Homo sapiens: one gene and its partners. The protein of the gene in region 1 purifies or fractionates together with the protein of each later gene. This does not show direct contact. Each region holds a gene or a part of one and is shown in the gene's direction. Other genes may lie near its edges.

Region 1 (3,393 bases):
CTTGCTGCACCGTAACTGGCCCCTTCAGACTCACATGGGAACAAGCCTTTTCTGTTGCAGTTTCCCAGATATCTTTAAATGTTTTGAAATGTATATTTTTATGTTGCAAAACAGAAAAAAGAAACGAGTTAGGGAAAAAGTATTTCTATTTAAGGTATTTATTTTTTCATTCTACCTATGCCATAGATTTCTGAATCAAGACTTAGGACATTTGCTGATTAACAATGTTTAAATTAGGAATTGTTATAAGAATTAAAATAGGCAGAACAAGTTGTGAAAATATTGAACCAAAAAAAGGCCATGCTATCATCTTAGAGGGCCCATGAATAAACCTTAGAGGGAATCCTAAGGCTTTAGGAAACCGCTGCAGCTTGTCTGTCATTTTCCAATATGTTAATTATTATACTTAGTGTACAGTATTTAGAATACAAAATGCTTTTTTATTTTTTAGGAAAATAATGTTATAAATGATTGTATATTTTCATAGTAATGTCTTTATAATTATTTATTAATGATAGAGCTGAATTAGAAAAGCTCTTCATCCATTATAATATGGTTTCTCATGAAAAACTTATTACAAATTTCAGCCAACTCAGATATTAAGAACATCAGTGTCAATCCTCCTCCCCTCCTGCGACCTTTTTACACTTGTTTTGGTGGACTAGGGGCTCCTTTTCTCCTCCTTTTTGACATATAACTGTGCCATTAAAAACATGATTTCTGATGAAGCTGGCCTAGAGGGAATGAAGGAGATTGCGTGGGTATGGTCTCTAGGACAGGCGTAGCTGTTGCAGGGCCACCCTGTCCTTGGGAGAACCTGGTGAGCTCCCATATTCACACTAGATGCCATCATGTCAGGGGGCTGAAGAGAATGGAGCTAATCAACTCTGTCATTTGGAGAAGACCCCCTTCAGACCAGTTCTGAGAACTCCTTCTTTTAAGAGACCAGAGATAACTTGATCATTTCTCACCTTTTCGTAGTTGTTCTTTTTTATGTTGACATTCCCCTTACTGTTTTTAAAATGCTTCAAAGCATTAATGATTGTTATGCTGTGTGCTTTCAGTACTATGGCAATATCTTTGTAGCATTTTCCCATTTCTGTATAAGCATGGTTTTTTGTTTTTTTTTTTTTCGTTTTTGTTTTGAGACAGGGTCTCACTCTTGTTCAGGCTAGAATGCAGTGGCACCATCTCAGCTCACTGCAACCTCTGCCTCCTGGGCTCAAGTGATCCTGCCACCTCAGCCTCCTGAGTAGCTGAGACTACAGGCACATGCCCCCACACCTAGCTAATTTTAAAATATTTTTTGATGGAGACAGGGTTTCACTATGTTTTCCAGGCAGCAGCATTTTTTTTTGACTGGGATTTCTTTATGATGCTTTGTTATTTAAAAAAAAAATGAGAAGGAAACATTAATAATCAAAATTATCTTTAATTGGCCTCACAGGGCTAAAATCTAGAATTATTATTACTCTTGGGTAAACTCATGAAAAGTACTTAATATTCATTCTATAAAGAAACAAAAAGAACCTTTGAGATGTGTCTCTTATTCATTTCCTTGGGTACACTTAAAACGGGTTACAGTTACTGCTCAACTTTCTACCTTCAGAACTGCAGCATTTATTTGCCACACAGCAGCATTTATCAGAGATTGTCCCTTAGAACATTGGTTCCTTGTAATACAAATAAATGTCATAATAAAAATAGTTTCTTTTTTCTTTCTTTCTTTTTTTTTCAAGACAGACTCTGGCTCTCTCGCCAAGGCTGGAATGCAGTGGCGCAATGTCAGCTCACTGCAAGCTCCGCCTCCCTGGTTCAAGCGATTCTTCTGCCTCAGCCTCCTGAGTAGCTGGGATTACAGGTGCCCACCACCACGTCTGGCTAATTTTCATATTTTTAGTACTGACAAGGTTTCACCATGTTTGTCAGGCTCATCTTGAACTCCTGACCTCAAGCAGTTCACCCGCCTCGGCCTCCCAAAGTGCTGGGATTACAGGCGTGAGCTGCCTCACCCAGCTGAAAAGAGTTTCTTAATTAAATATATTTGAGAAACATCTAGTCAAACCACCTTAAATAGGTATATTTACATTAGTTCTAAGGGAATTTAACTTGTGATGTACGTTGTGAAGGGAGGAAGATAGCATTATGCCAAAAGTTTCCACTAGCTTGACAGCAGACCCTGTCTTAGAGTTTTCTTCCTGATTGGTAAACATAAGAAATGTTTCCAAAGCCGGGCTTGGTGGCTCACCCCTGTAATTCCAGCACTTTGGGAGGCCGAGGTGGGTGGATCACTTGAGGTCAGGAGTTCGAGACCAGTCTGGCCAAGATGGCAAAACCCCATCTCTACTAAACACACACACACACACACACACACACACACACACACACACACACACACACACACACACACACACACCCGGCGGGGTGGTAGGCTCCTGTAATCCTTGCTACTCAGGAGCCTGAGGCATGAGAATTGCTTGAACCTGGGAGGTGGAATTTGCAATGAGCCGAGATGGTGCCACTCTGGGCGACAAAGTGAGACTCTGCCTCAAAAAGAAATGTCTCCATATAATTTTGCACTAAAACCTTAATTTGTCATAGTTTTGAAAATAGGGTGTTGTATGTTGATTGAATTTTTTTCCCTGAGAACTGGAATACCATTTTTACTTTAACCCTTAATGTGAGAAAACTTTACAATTTCCTGCAATTTTTCCTGCCTCTGTATATATTACACCTGTCATCATTTAGTCTTTCATGTGGGAAAGGCCAGTGGTACCAGATTGCATTCGGTTCATCATGGCTCATTGTCTAGCCCTGCTAGAGTATAGACTAAGCCTTCATACCTTATGTTTTATATCTTTTACCTGAAAAATAAATTTGCACCAAATTTCAACTTGTTTTCTTATGATTTGACAGTGTAGAAAGTGATTAGTAGTTAAATTTTTATAATGCTTTGTTATTTAAAAAAACTATGAAAAGAAAACATCAGTTATCAAAATTTCCTTTAATTGGCCTCAAAGGGCTAAAATCTAAAATTATTATTACTCTTGGGTAAACTCATGAAAAGATAAATTCTTTTTACAGAAGAATTTAATTAGCTTGACTGGTATCAAATACCAATTGCATCAAACATCAGTGATTCCATGAATTTTTTAAAGTTGTTTTTACTTTAAGCAGATAATGTTCAGTGAATTTGACTAATGTGATTAACGAAGGGACCAACACAGGTAATTGTCAATCTTACAGACATAAACTGTTACCTCGAATATCCCTGTATTACTTGAAATTCTAGAAATCGTCTGTCAACATTTTAAAAGCTCCTCTCCTTGCTGATGAGAAGTAATATTCTTAAAGTTAGAAACCATACAATTAAATCCTGATTTGCCTGATACA
Region 2 (3,621 bases), on another chromosome or scaffold:
GCTGCCCAACTTCAGCGAGTGCTGGTGGGATCACGTAGGTGCCAGCACAGCCCCCGGGGCAGTCGGTGCAGGCTGAGGGGCATTCTCGGAACCCCTGTGCCCAGCGCGGCCCCTGGACCCCCTCATTCTCCCCGGGGGGCAGTGGGTGCAGGCTGAGGGGCATTCTCGGTTCCCCTGTGCTCTTCCGGGGTCCTCCTCGGGGGGCTCGTTACCCCTCACCCCTGCAACGAGTGCTGGCCCCTCCCTGCAGTGGATCATGGACGTGCTCGTCTGCAACGGGCTGGGCATCTACTGCGGCATGAAGACCCTTGAGTGGCTGTCCCTGAAGACGTACAAGTGGCAGGGCCTCTGGAACATTCCGACCTACAAGTACGTCGTGGGGGCTGCGAGGGCAGGGCCGGGTGGGGGTTACCTGGAGGCAGCCTCAGCGTCCGTGCTCCAGCAGACCCCGAGCACCAGGCCCGTCCAGTGTGCGGCTCAGGAGGGGTGACCGTGGGGCTTTGCCTCCTGGAACCTCCCTCTGACCTGGTGTCACTCAAGCCCGGCCGCCCCTCACAGTGGCCATGGCGTCTGACCCACGTACCTCCCTCCTCAATCCCTGGCCGGCCTGGCGCAGGGGCTGTGGGATCATTCCGTGCTTCTCCCTCCCTTGGTTGCTTTGGTTATGAAATAGTTGCAGGTACTTTGTCATTATGACTTTGGAATTTAAAAAAGAAACAGAAGTCTAAGGAAAGGCCTGGGGGACGGGGGTCTCCCCTCCTGCCTGTGGGTGCCCCGGCTCTGCCTGGCTCTGCAGACATGGCTAGCTCACGGCACCGTGGAGCGCCCTCTGAGGCGCTGCAGCCACTGCTCAAGCTGGAAGAGACTGAACAGCAGAGGGCCGTGGAGAAGCAGGGCTTGTAGCTGGGTGGCCAGACCTCGGAGAACAGCCGGGCAGCAGCTGGGTAACCAGGAACAGAGTCTGTGGCCCGATGGCACAGGGCGGGGCGGGGTGACCAAGAGCAGAGCTCGTCCGATGGCACAGGGCGGGGCCGGGTGACCAGGAACAGTCTGTTGCCCGATGGCACAGGGCAGGGTTCGGTGGGCTGCCTTCCTCAGGCTGCCGGCTCTGTGGTTCCCAGGGGCAAGATGAAGAGGATCGCCTTCCAGTTCACGCCGTACAGCTGGGTTCGCTTCGAGTGGAAGCCGGCCTCCAGCCTGCGTCGCTGGCTGGCCGTGTGCGGCATCATCCTGGTGGTAAGGCCGGGCTGCCTCGCGACGGCGCGGCGGGCGGGGGGCCAGAGCTGGTGCTCACCCTCTCCTCCCCTAGTTCCTGTTGGCAGAACTGAACACGTTCTACCTGAAGTTTGTGCTGTGGATGCCCCCGGAGCACTACCTGGTCCTCCTGCGGCTCGTCTTCTTCGTGAACGTGGGTGGCGTGGCCATGCGTGAGATCTACGACTTCATGGATGACCCGTGAGGGCTGCGGCAGTCCGGGTGGAGACACCCCCGGGGGGCAGGGGCCGGAGGGCTGGGGAGCAGAGCCTGGGAGGCCGGAGCCTGGGCAAGTCCGCCTGGAGGACCCTGCGGGGCCCGGGACGCTGAACCCCCTGCTGCCCCTGCAGGAAGCCCCACAAGAAGCTGGGCCCGCAGGCCTGGCTGGTGGCGGCCATCACGGCCACGGAGCTGCTCATCGTGGTGAAGTACGACCCCCACACGCTCACCCTGTCCCTGCCCTTCTACATCTCCCAGTGCTGGACCCTCGGCTCCGTCCTGGCGCTCACCTGGACCGTCTGGCGCTTCTTCCTGCGGTGAGTCAGGGCAGGGCGCGTATGTTCTGAAGGAGGGCCGCTGTCCGGGTCCCTTGGCACAGGCACTGTGGGAGTTTGGTGTCGTTGGTGTCTCACTGTCCCTGCTTCAACCCTCTGGCCGCCTCTGCGGGAGGCGCCTTTCCTGACCCAGCCCTCGGGGCCTTCGCTCTGCACTGACAGATCCAGGCTCCTCAGGGCTCCAGTCTGCCACGGCTGCCGTCCCAGGGCCAGGGTACCCGGCACCCACCCAGTCCATTCCGGACCTCCACAGGGACTAGGTGCCAGCTGTCCATGGGGCCTGCAGTGGGGCTGGTGTGGGGGCAGGTGGTGACGCTGCATCCCGCTCCCCAGGGACATCACATTGAGGTACAAGGAGACCCGGTGGCAGAAGTGGCAGAACAAGGATGACCAGGGCAGCACCGTCGGCAACGGGGACCAGCACCCACTGGGGCTGGACGAAGACCTGCTGGGGCCTGGGGTGGCCGAGGGCGAGGGAGCACCAACTCCAAACTGACCTGGGCCGTGGCTGCCTCGTGAGCCTCCCAGAGCCCAGGCCTCCGTGGCCTCCTCCTGTGTGAGTCCCACCAGGAGCCACGTGCCCGGCCTTGCCCTCAAGGTTTTTTGCTTTTCTCCTGTGCACCTGGCGAGGCTGAAGGCGAGGGGTGGAGGAGGCCCCAGCACAGCCTCATCTCCATGTGTACACGTGTGTACGTGTGTATGCGTGTGTGTACGCGTGTGTACGCGCGTGTGTACACATGCGTGGCCGCCTGTGGTGTGCACGTGTGCTCTGGGCTCCGAGGCTTCTCCAGAGCTGGGAGCTGGCTGGCGTGGCAAGGGCATGCTCTGGGGCAGTGTGTCCCTCAGGAACCAGGGTCCTCCCTCCCCTTTCTGCCTGGTCAGCCCCGTGGCCTCTGGCCCACCAAGCTCCCTGTCACCCAGCCATGGTGTGGTCCAGGCAGGGACATCTCGGTACCCTTTCTGCACTCCGTGGGCCCTGGGTGCGCTGAGGCCTGGAGGCGTCTACACTGGCTCCACATCCACTTCCCCCGCAGCTCGTGTGGGCGCTCGTCCACAAACACTCCGTGGCTGAGAGGCAGCGGATCCAGGCAGCGATGCTGAGCCACCTCCTCCGAGCCTTCCTTTCACACAGACCACCCCGGAGGACACGTGGATGATGGGGTCAGAGATCACTGAGCTGCCCCTCAAGGGGGCCTGGAACCCGGGTGCTGGGGTCATGCTGCCTCCGTGGCTCCAAGGTGAGGGTCATCTTCACGAGCAAAGAGAACCAATAAAGTGACAACGAACGTCTGAGGCTTCCAGCCCTCCCCCCAGCTCCCCGTGTCCTGCTTTGGGGTCCAGTGCAGCCCTCCAGCCTGCCCTCATGCCCAGTGCCCACTTGGGGAAAACCACACAGAGGACAGGAGGCACTCAGCCTCTGCACCTGAGCAAAGACTTGGCGCCTGCCCCGCCCCACCCCCCAGAGAGAGCAGGTGCCAGATGCAGCCCCTCTCCCATTCTCCAGGAGGGTCCAGGTGGCACCCACCCTCTGCTGCGCTTGTCCAAGGGCTGGCGGCCACTGGGCAGTGGACACAGGATTCCTGGGGTACTGTGTTTGTCCCAGGCTGGCAGACACTGGGCAGTGGACACAGGATTCCTGGGGTGCTGTGTTTGTCCCAGGCTGGCAGACACTGGGCAGTGGACACAGGATTCCTGGGGTGCTGTGTTTGTCCCAGGCTGGCAGACACTGGGCAGTGGACACAGGATTCCTGGGGTGCTGTGTTTGTCCCAGGCTGGCAGACACTGGGCAGTGGACACAGGATTCCTGGGGTGC
Region 3 (3,500 bases), on another chromosome or scaffold:
ACCCAAGTGGGTTAGGACCATATCTGTAAGGCACCATATCTGTAAGGCAGCGCAGGCTGCCGCCGTCAGATGATCTCCTTAAGAGTCCGTCTAGGTGGTGGCAGAGCATGGCTGTGGGAGCTTCCATGCCCTTTTGTGGGCAGCTTGGGAGGGCAGCTACTTGTACTCGCCCAAACCCCAATCAGACAGATGCAGGCAAGTAAACAGGGTTCGAAGTCAAAATATGGCTTCTTGTGGACAGAATCTGACCAAGCCCAGGTGGGGCTTTGTTTCTCTTTATTCACATAGTACTTAAAGCTGCCAGACCAGGCTTTTACATGAAAATGACCTAATTTGAAGCCGATAGAGGATTACCATGGAAGTCACTGATCAGATAAAGTGACACATCCATTTTTTCACATCTTCAGAAAACAAGAGCAAAACTGAAGTGACAAGATTTGACCAGAAAGTGTGGGCTGCTGAAAGCAAGACCTAAGTAAGCTTAGTTTCCCAGGCCCAGTGTCTTCCAGTATTATGACAATGACATTAAGTCTTTCACTGGGCCGGGTCCATGATAGACATTCCTTTTGTGAACTTCTTGACTGTAGGAGGTTGGCCAGAGCGTCACCATCTTCAGATGGGCAGAGGGAGGTTGGCTGGCCGCACTGGCTTGTGGTGGCCTGGAGACTGAGTCCGCATCCTGTTACCCCAAAGGCTGGGTTCCTCACTGCTTGGTTGACTGATCTTTCCTTCTGGCCTGCAGAGGCTGGTCCACGGGGACGAGCAGTCTGGTTAGTTTCTGCTGGCAGGCTCCCCACAGTTGCATCTCTTGTCTCTCTGCCTCTGGCATCAAGCTGCTTGCTCTGGCAGCCAGGGACAGTGTCCTCTTGCTCCCAGGAGCCATGCTCTGTAGAAACTGCTGAGACGTGCTCTATGCAGGAGCTTGGCATTTGGAAGCCATGGGAAGGGTCCAGAAACTAATGAACTCAGCAATCCAAACTAATGTCCATGCCTGCAGCTGCTCCTCATTGCCTATTAGACACTCTGTAAAATGTAGCTTCTAAGCAGTTTATACCCATAAACAGCAATATTAGCACTTAATGGGTTCTGCCTGGTGGCTCATCACCAAGGTGACAGAAAAGCTGCATGGGGCCTTCCTCTCCAGTGTGACCTTTGGTGTTTTTAACCTGTCCTCAAGAGTGGCAGAGCTAGTCCTGGGCCCTAGGAGCTGGCCTCGGCCCTAGTTGAAGTGCTGGGGAAGCAAGGATAGGCCTGAGGACCCCTGAACTTGCAGGTGGCACAGGCACTGTGAGGGTCCCGATGAACACCATGCTGGTGACTGGTGTGGCAAAGTCCTGGTGACAGTGGCAGGCTCTGTCATACCCTGCCCTATATCATGAAGGAGTGGGGAGAGAAGGCAAAGAGGAGCTGACTCACTTTTCTTTGTGTGATGATCTTAACGGGAGGTTAAAACTCACTCTTCAGGGGAGTGCGGGCGAGGAGCAGAGGAGGTTGTGGTTAGCGGGGCTCCTCCCAGAACATGGGGCCCAGTCGTTCTCAGTTACGTCTTTCCTATAGTTGGGATTTTGATCACACAGTTTTTTAGTAAAGCCAGGCCATCATCTCCCACATTGGGCTGGCGACATCCTTTCTGGCCCTGCAGGGTGCAGTGTGAACCTATAGAGCAGCATGGGAGCGGGGCTCGGGGAAGTTCTGGAGCTGCAGTGAGCCAGTGAGCTCGAGCCAGCTCTGACAGGCTGATGTGAGGGAAGCCGCTGGGCCGCAGGTGCTTGTTTCTAGGATGTGTGGGACCTGAGTTGGGCTTTGAACAAGGCAGCCCCAGTCCTTGGTGATCAAGGAAATCTGACCTGCCTTTTTCGTCGATGTTCACATTCACCACGAATTTGCAAGCTGCTTTCCTCAATTTCTTTCTGTCCTGAGTGTGAAGAGAAAGTGGAGTTTTCTGTGTGGCGTGGGAGCTGCAGGTGGCTGTGACAGTGATCACTGGATGCCCAGGAAGTCATCTCAGGGTGGATATAATTAATTACGTTTCTAAAATCCCCTTCAGTCGTCTAAAATAACCACCCCTTTGAGAGAAATATCAGTCTTCCTGTTAAGCCCCTCAGATGCTGTCACTGCTTATGAACCATATCCTGCTTGATGGCGCGGTTCTCGGAGAGACTTAATGAGAAGCTTGGCCACAGAGGTGAGCTAACTGTCATCTTCTTCCTGCAGCCTGCCAGGTCAACAGCCACCTCTGGCTCTGCTGTCGCAGTTCTCTAATGGGGGGGAGGGGGACTGTCACAAGTTTTATGTGCTCGCCGTGTTTACACAGGTCACCTGTGTGCTGGCTACCAGCAATGGCCTTAGTGCCTGCAGTGCGGCTGCTCTTGTCTGTCCTGGGGTGCTGTGTGTCCTGCCTGTGTTGAGGGCTCTTCTCTGCTGTGCTGAGGGGACACTGGCTCTGGGACGTGTTCTAGAGTGGCATGACATGGTTCCAGTGGCCAAGTTGAAGTAGTTGTGACCAACATGCATGTAGGAAATAAGGTTAATGTTGGGCCTTGTCTTTAAACGTGGCTTTTTCAGTGTTCAGTCCAAACAGATGCTCATTAAATGGTGGCCAGTTTAGAGGAGACTGCATCAGCCTGACTTCAGCCTTCAGTGTGGACCAGGCTTGCCTTTGAAAACCAGGACAGCCAAGCAGTAGGTGTGCTCAGTTCAGAAGGCAGTACCTAGATTTTTGCATATTTTTCCCCAAAGCCAAGAGCTGTGTCTGTTTCGTCACCATGTTTGCGCAGGGAAGGAGGTGTGAATTGCCTGTCCCACCTTCTCTCTCTTTTTTGCTCTTTAATCCTCTTGACCCAGACACTCAAATTAAGAGTCGCAGACTCATTCAAAGAGACTTTTAAACACTGCCTCAATCTCGTGGGCTGTGCACGTAGATGAGCATGTTAAATGCAGGTCCTGCAACTGGGGGAGGCTTAGACCGCAGCCCATGGCTGGGCTGGTTTGCTCATCTCAGGCCAGTGAGTGGCTCACAGCTCTCATTTTAGAAGCAAGTCAGAACACCTCTGGTGTCTGTCTTGGGTATGGATTGCAGTCTACCTCTCTGCTGCTGTTGGGGTCCACGCCCCACACCCACACCCTGCCCTGGGAGTCCCACCACGGCTCCGTCTCATCTCAGAGGTCTGGACAGCCTCCTGTTGAGCTCTTCCTTCCCAGTGGTTGCTTTTCCCCAGGTTCAGATGAGATAAAGGCTTGTGTCCTTGCTGGGGCTTCCCAGCTGGGCCACGATGTGAGGCCATTCCTTGAGAGCAGTGGCACATCGTGTGCCACGGTGGTGTGCTTTCTCTCTTCCATGGAATATGGGTGATTACACTGTTGCTGGGCATTTAGAGAGCAACGGGGCCATGAGGCAGAACCTGGGGAGGGTGTGTGGCGTCACCTTTCCCACCACCCAGTGTGATGCAGGTTGCGTCACACTGTGCACATGGGCATCTTGTGCTGGTTCTCTGCATTGG
Region 4 (3,500 bases), on another chromosome or scaffold:
CTTTGTTGTGGTATAAGTTGTTTCATAGAATATGAAATTTGAAAATTTGAGTAGTATTTGGTAATGTTCAGAGTTTTAAGCCTTTTGAGTTGTAATAAGTATTTGTTAAATCAGTTTACCATTACACGAGTTTTACATTGCCTTTGAAGTCGTCAGTAATAGAAAAATAGTGTATGTACTAAACTACACAGTATTTTTTATTATTTCAACAAATATTTCTTGATACTACTGTATGCCAGGTACTAACTACATCAGACAACTGGAATATAGTATGGAATAAAATAGTCAAGTCTCTGCTCTCATAGAGTCTCTGGGGTAAGGGGAGAGGTGTGGAGAGACAATAAATATAAAGAATGTGTATTATATCAGATGAATAAATGCATTGAAGGAAAATATAGCAGGATAAGAGGGTAGAGATTGATGAAAGAAGTTCAATTTTAGATAATTAAGAAAAATGAAAATATTGACAGTTGAAATGGAAACTGTTTACCAATATAAAAAATAGTGAAGAAAATTGTTCATTAAATGTGATTTTTCTATGTGATAGTTCATGTAGGAGTATTTTGTATATAAATTTAAATTTAACCATTTAAAGTACTTAAATTGTCTTTTCTATTATTCTAAATAGTTTTAGTTAAAGATGTTTGTTGATTTGAAGTATTTCATTGGTTCTCCCTTATTTTGTTATTTATTTATTTATTTTGAGACAGAATTTTGCTCTTGTTGCCCAGGCTTCAGTGTAATGGCACGATATCGGCTTACTGCAACCTCTGCCTTCCAGGTTCAAGCGATTCTCCTGCCTCAGCCTACTGAGTAGCTGTGATTACAGGCACCCGCTACCACACCTGGCTAATTTTTGTATTTTTAGTAGAGATGGTGTTTCACCATGTTGGCCCAGGCTGGTCATGAACTCCTGACCTCAGGTGATCCGCCTGCCTTAGCCTCCCGAAGTGCTAGGATTACAGGTGTGAGCCACTGCCCCTTATTTTATTTTGTTGGGTTGATCACACTCTTGATTCTCTGTGTTAGGATATTAATCAATTCCTTGAAATACTGTAGTATGTAGATAAACAAAAGTCTAACATTGATTTTACAAAGGAGAAAAAGTTCATATTGCCTTTGATTAGTAAATTTTTTTAAGTATAGAGAGATATCAAATTTTTCAATTTTAAAATAGAGACTTTAAATCTCTATACTCTAACTTTTTTGAGTAGAGAGATATCAAGTAAACTATTCGCTGATGACTGTATCATAAAATTAAGAATGTTTTCAAATGTATGACTTTAATAGTCATTGATAAATTTTCTGCATATAAAATAGTAGAAAAATTAAAAATGAGAATTTATCAAAGTAAGTTTAAAGATTTATGTAGATAAATGGAAGTGATAAATATATTTTGTAAAGCAGTGAGTAAGAATTTCATGAAAGTTGAGTTGTTAGGTGAAATTAACACAAAAGAAAAATACTATTTCAAAAAACAAAAGGTTACTTTTAAATGGTCTCTTTCCGTTTTTTCCTTCCTCTCTTTTAGAAAATCTTAAATTATAGAGGATGAATAATCTTAGTAAAATGTATTTTACTAAGTATCTAATTTCCTAGGATTTAGTTAACAGCTTATTTGCATAAACTATTCTGTTAGGACTTATAATATTAAGAAACAAACTCCAGATGACACTGTATTAAAACTGTTCACATCTAAAATAAGAACTTCTTAATTTGTAATATTGTAAGAACTAATAATTTTTGTTAAGTTTTTGAAAATACAAGGTACGTGAAATTTTTTAAGTGTGCTTTAAAAATAAAATATAAGTACTTGAGGATAGGAATTACCCTTTTAATCTTATTCATAGTCCAATGTGAAGCATGACATTTCTCCAAAGAGTTGATTAATGTATTAATGTACTAATAAATATTCAGATGAAATTTCCAAATGTCATTTCCTGTGTTAATGATGCATTTTAACCTTCTTTTTACTTTATAGATATGGTCCAGACCTGTACATGAATAACTTTGGTTAGTCAGAGTGAAATATTCAATAATGAGTGGTGCAGCTTTGGGACTTGAGATTGTTTTTGTCTTTTTTCTGGCATTATTTCTGCTTCATCGATATGGAGACTTTAAGAAACAGCATAGACTTGTGATTATTGGAACACTGCTTGCTTGGTATCTCTGCTTTCTTATTGTCTTCATACTGCCTCTGGATGTTAGTACGGTAAGGAGTGAAATTTATTTTCACAATTTAAAAGACAAATTTTAATCATACAGCATGTTGGAAATAATGTTATTTCTTAAGACAGCTAAGTTATGTCAGTTTTGAATTAAAAGATTATATGGCCATTTGATCATTAAAAAGCATAGCCAAGGGCCGGGCGTGGTGGCTCACGCCTGTAATTTTAGCACTTTGGGAGGCCCAGACTGGCGGATCACAAGGTCAGGAGATCGAGACTATCCTGGCTAACACGGTGAAACACCGTCTCTACTAAAAATACAAAAAAAATAGCCGGACGTGGTGGCGGACGCCTGTAGTCCCAGCTACTCGGGAGGCTGAGGCAGGAGAATGGCGTGAATCCGGGAGGCGGAGCTTGCAGTAAGCCGAGATCGCGCCACTGCACTCCAGCCTGGGCGACAGAGTGAGACTCTGTCTCACACAAAAAGAAAAAAAAAAAAAAAAGAATAAAGCATAGCCAAGAAGGTAAGTTTAGATAGATAGATTTATAAACTCTGATGTCCTTTAAGTACTTGGTAACCTTTTGATTCTCATTTTTAAACCATACATTCGTTGCTTTAGACAATATACAACCGGTGCAAGCATGCTGCTGCAAATTCAAGCCCTCCTGAGAATAGCAACATTACAGGATTGTACGCAACTGCTAACCCTGTTCCAAGGTATTTCCTTTTTTAAAAAAAATATATAAACATTGTAGGGGACACATTGTTTAAAAATTGAAAGTTTTTACCATCCAGACTTTATATTTATGTAAGTTATCCTCATTCTCTACTAATTCTCCCCACCTCTATTCTTTCCTAGTAGACTTTTCATTACATCATATTCTAATTAAATCTAATTTTTAATATTTATTGGTCCACAAAGCCCTTCAGTAGACGGTAGTGAGAAACTTGAAGAAGTCCTGATTTTTTAGTCCTGGTTCTTCTTTACCAAGTATGTAATTTCTAAAACCTGTTTTTCCTCTCAGCCTATCTCAGATTTAAAAACGTGGGATGTATTTTCACTTTTGCCTAATTTACAAGGTTATAATAAAGACAAGTATTTCTGAACTTATGGTATTCCTTTCATATTGCACATCCTTCAAAAGCATTATAGATTTACATAAAAAATTAATAAAGTTCAAATTGTCCAAAGATTATATTGAATTCATATCGAACTTTTAAGTAAAAAGCTTATATATGTTGACTATAGCCTTTATGAATGCTTTCAGTAGTATTTGCATGCTTCTTTATGCATATTTTTAAAAAATCTAACTTCAGAAAAGGTAAATTTA

What was found.
Region 2: the proteins of PIGN (region 1) and PTDSS2 purify together in Homo sapiens (affinity purification with mass spectrometry; one large-scale study listed by BioGRID and IntAct). This does not show direct contact.
Region 3: the proteins of PIGN (region 1) and SURF4 purify together in Homo sapiens (affinity purification with mass spectrometry; one large-scale study listed by BioGRID and IntAct). This does not show direct contact.
Region 4: the proteins of PIGN (region 1) and LMBRD2 purify together in Homo sapiens (affinity purification with mass spectrometry; one large-scale study listed by BioGRID and IntAct). This does not show direct contact.

Annotation. Positions count from the first base shown.
Region 1 is NC_000018.10:62,040,664-62,044,056, reverse strand, and holds the end of PIGN (GPI ethanolamine phosphate transferase 1), read left to right. Parts: 3' UTR 1-2,893; downstream 2,894-3,393.
Region 2 is NC_000011.10:488,279-491,899, forward strand, and holds the end of PTDSS2 (phosphatidylserine synthase 2), read left to right. Parts: coding exon 1-34; intron 35-250; coding exon 251-369; intron 370-1,121; coding exon 1,122-1,236; intron 1,237-1,309; coding exon 1,310-1,455; intron 1,456-1,604; coding exon 1,605-1,790; intron 1,791-2,141; coding exon 2,142-2,304; 3' UTR 2,305-3,121; downstream 3,122-3,621. UniProt on the Homo sapiens protein: Catalyzes a base-exchange reaction in which the polar head group of phosphatidylethanolamine (PE) or phosphatidylcholine (PC) is replaced by L-serine. Catalyzes the conversion of phosphatatidylethanolamine and does not act on phosphatidylcholine.
Region 3 is NC_000009.12:133,369,561-133,373,060, reverse strand, and holds part of SURF4 (surfeit locus protein 4), read left to right. Parts: exon of another isoform or gene 1-2,139; coding exon of another isoform or gene 2,140-2,185; intron 2,186-3,500. UniProt on the Homo sapiens protein: Endoplasmic reticulum cargo receptor that mediates the export of lipoproteins by recruiting cargos into COPII vesicles to facilitate their secretion.
Region 4 is NC_000005.10:36,141,888-36,145,387, reverse strand, and holds part of LMBRD2 (G-protein coupled receptor-associated protein LMBRD2), read left to right. Parts: intron 1-1,981; 5' UTR 1,982-2,038; coding exon 2,039-2,212; intron 2,213-2,788; coding exon 2,789-2,886; intron 2,887-3,500. UniProt on the Homo sapiens protein: Recruited to ligand-activated beta-2 adrenergic receptor/ADRB2, it negatively regulates the adrenergic receptor signaling pathway. May also regulate other G-protein coupled receptors including type-1 angiotensin II receptor/AGTR1.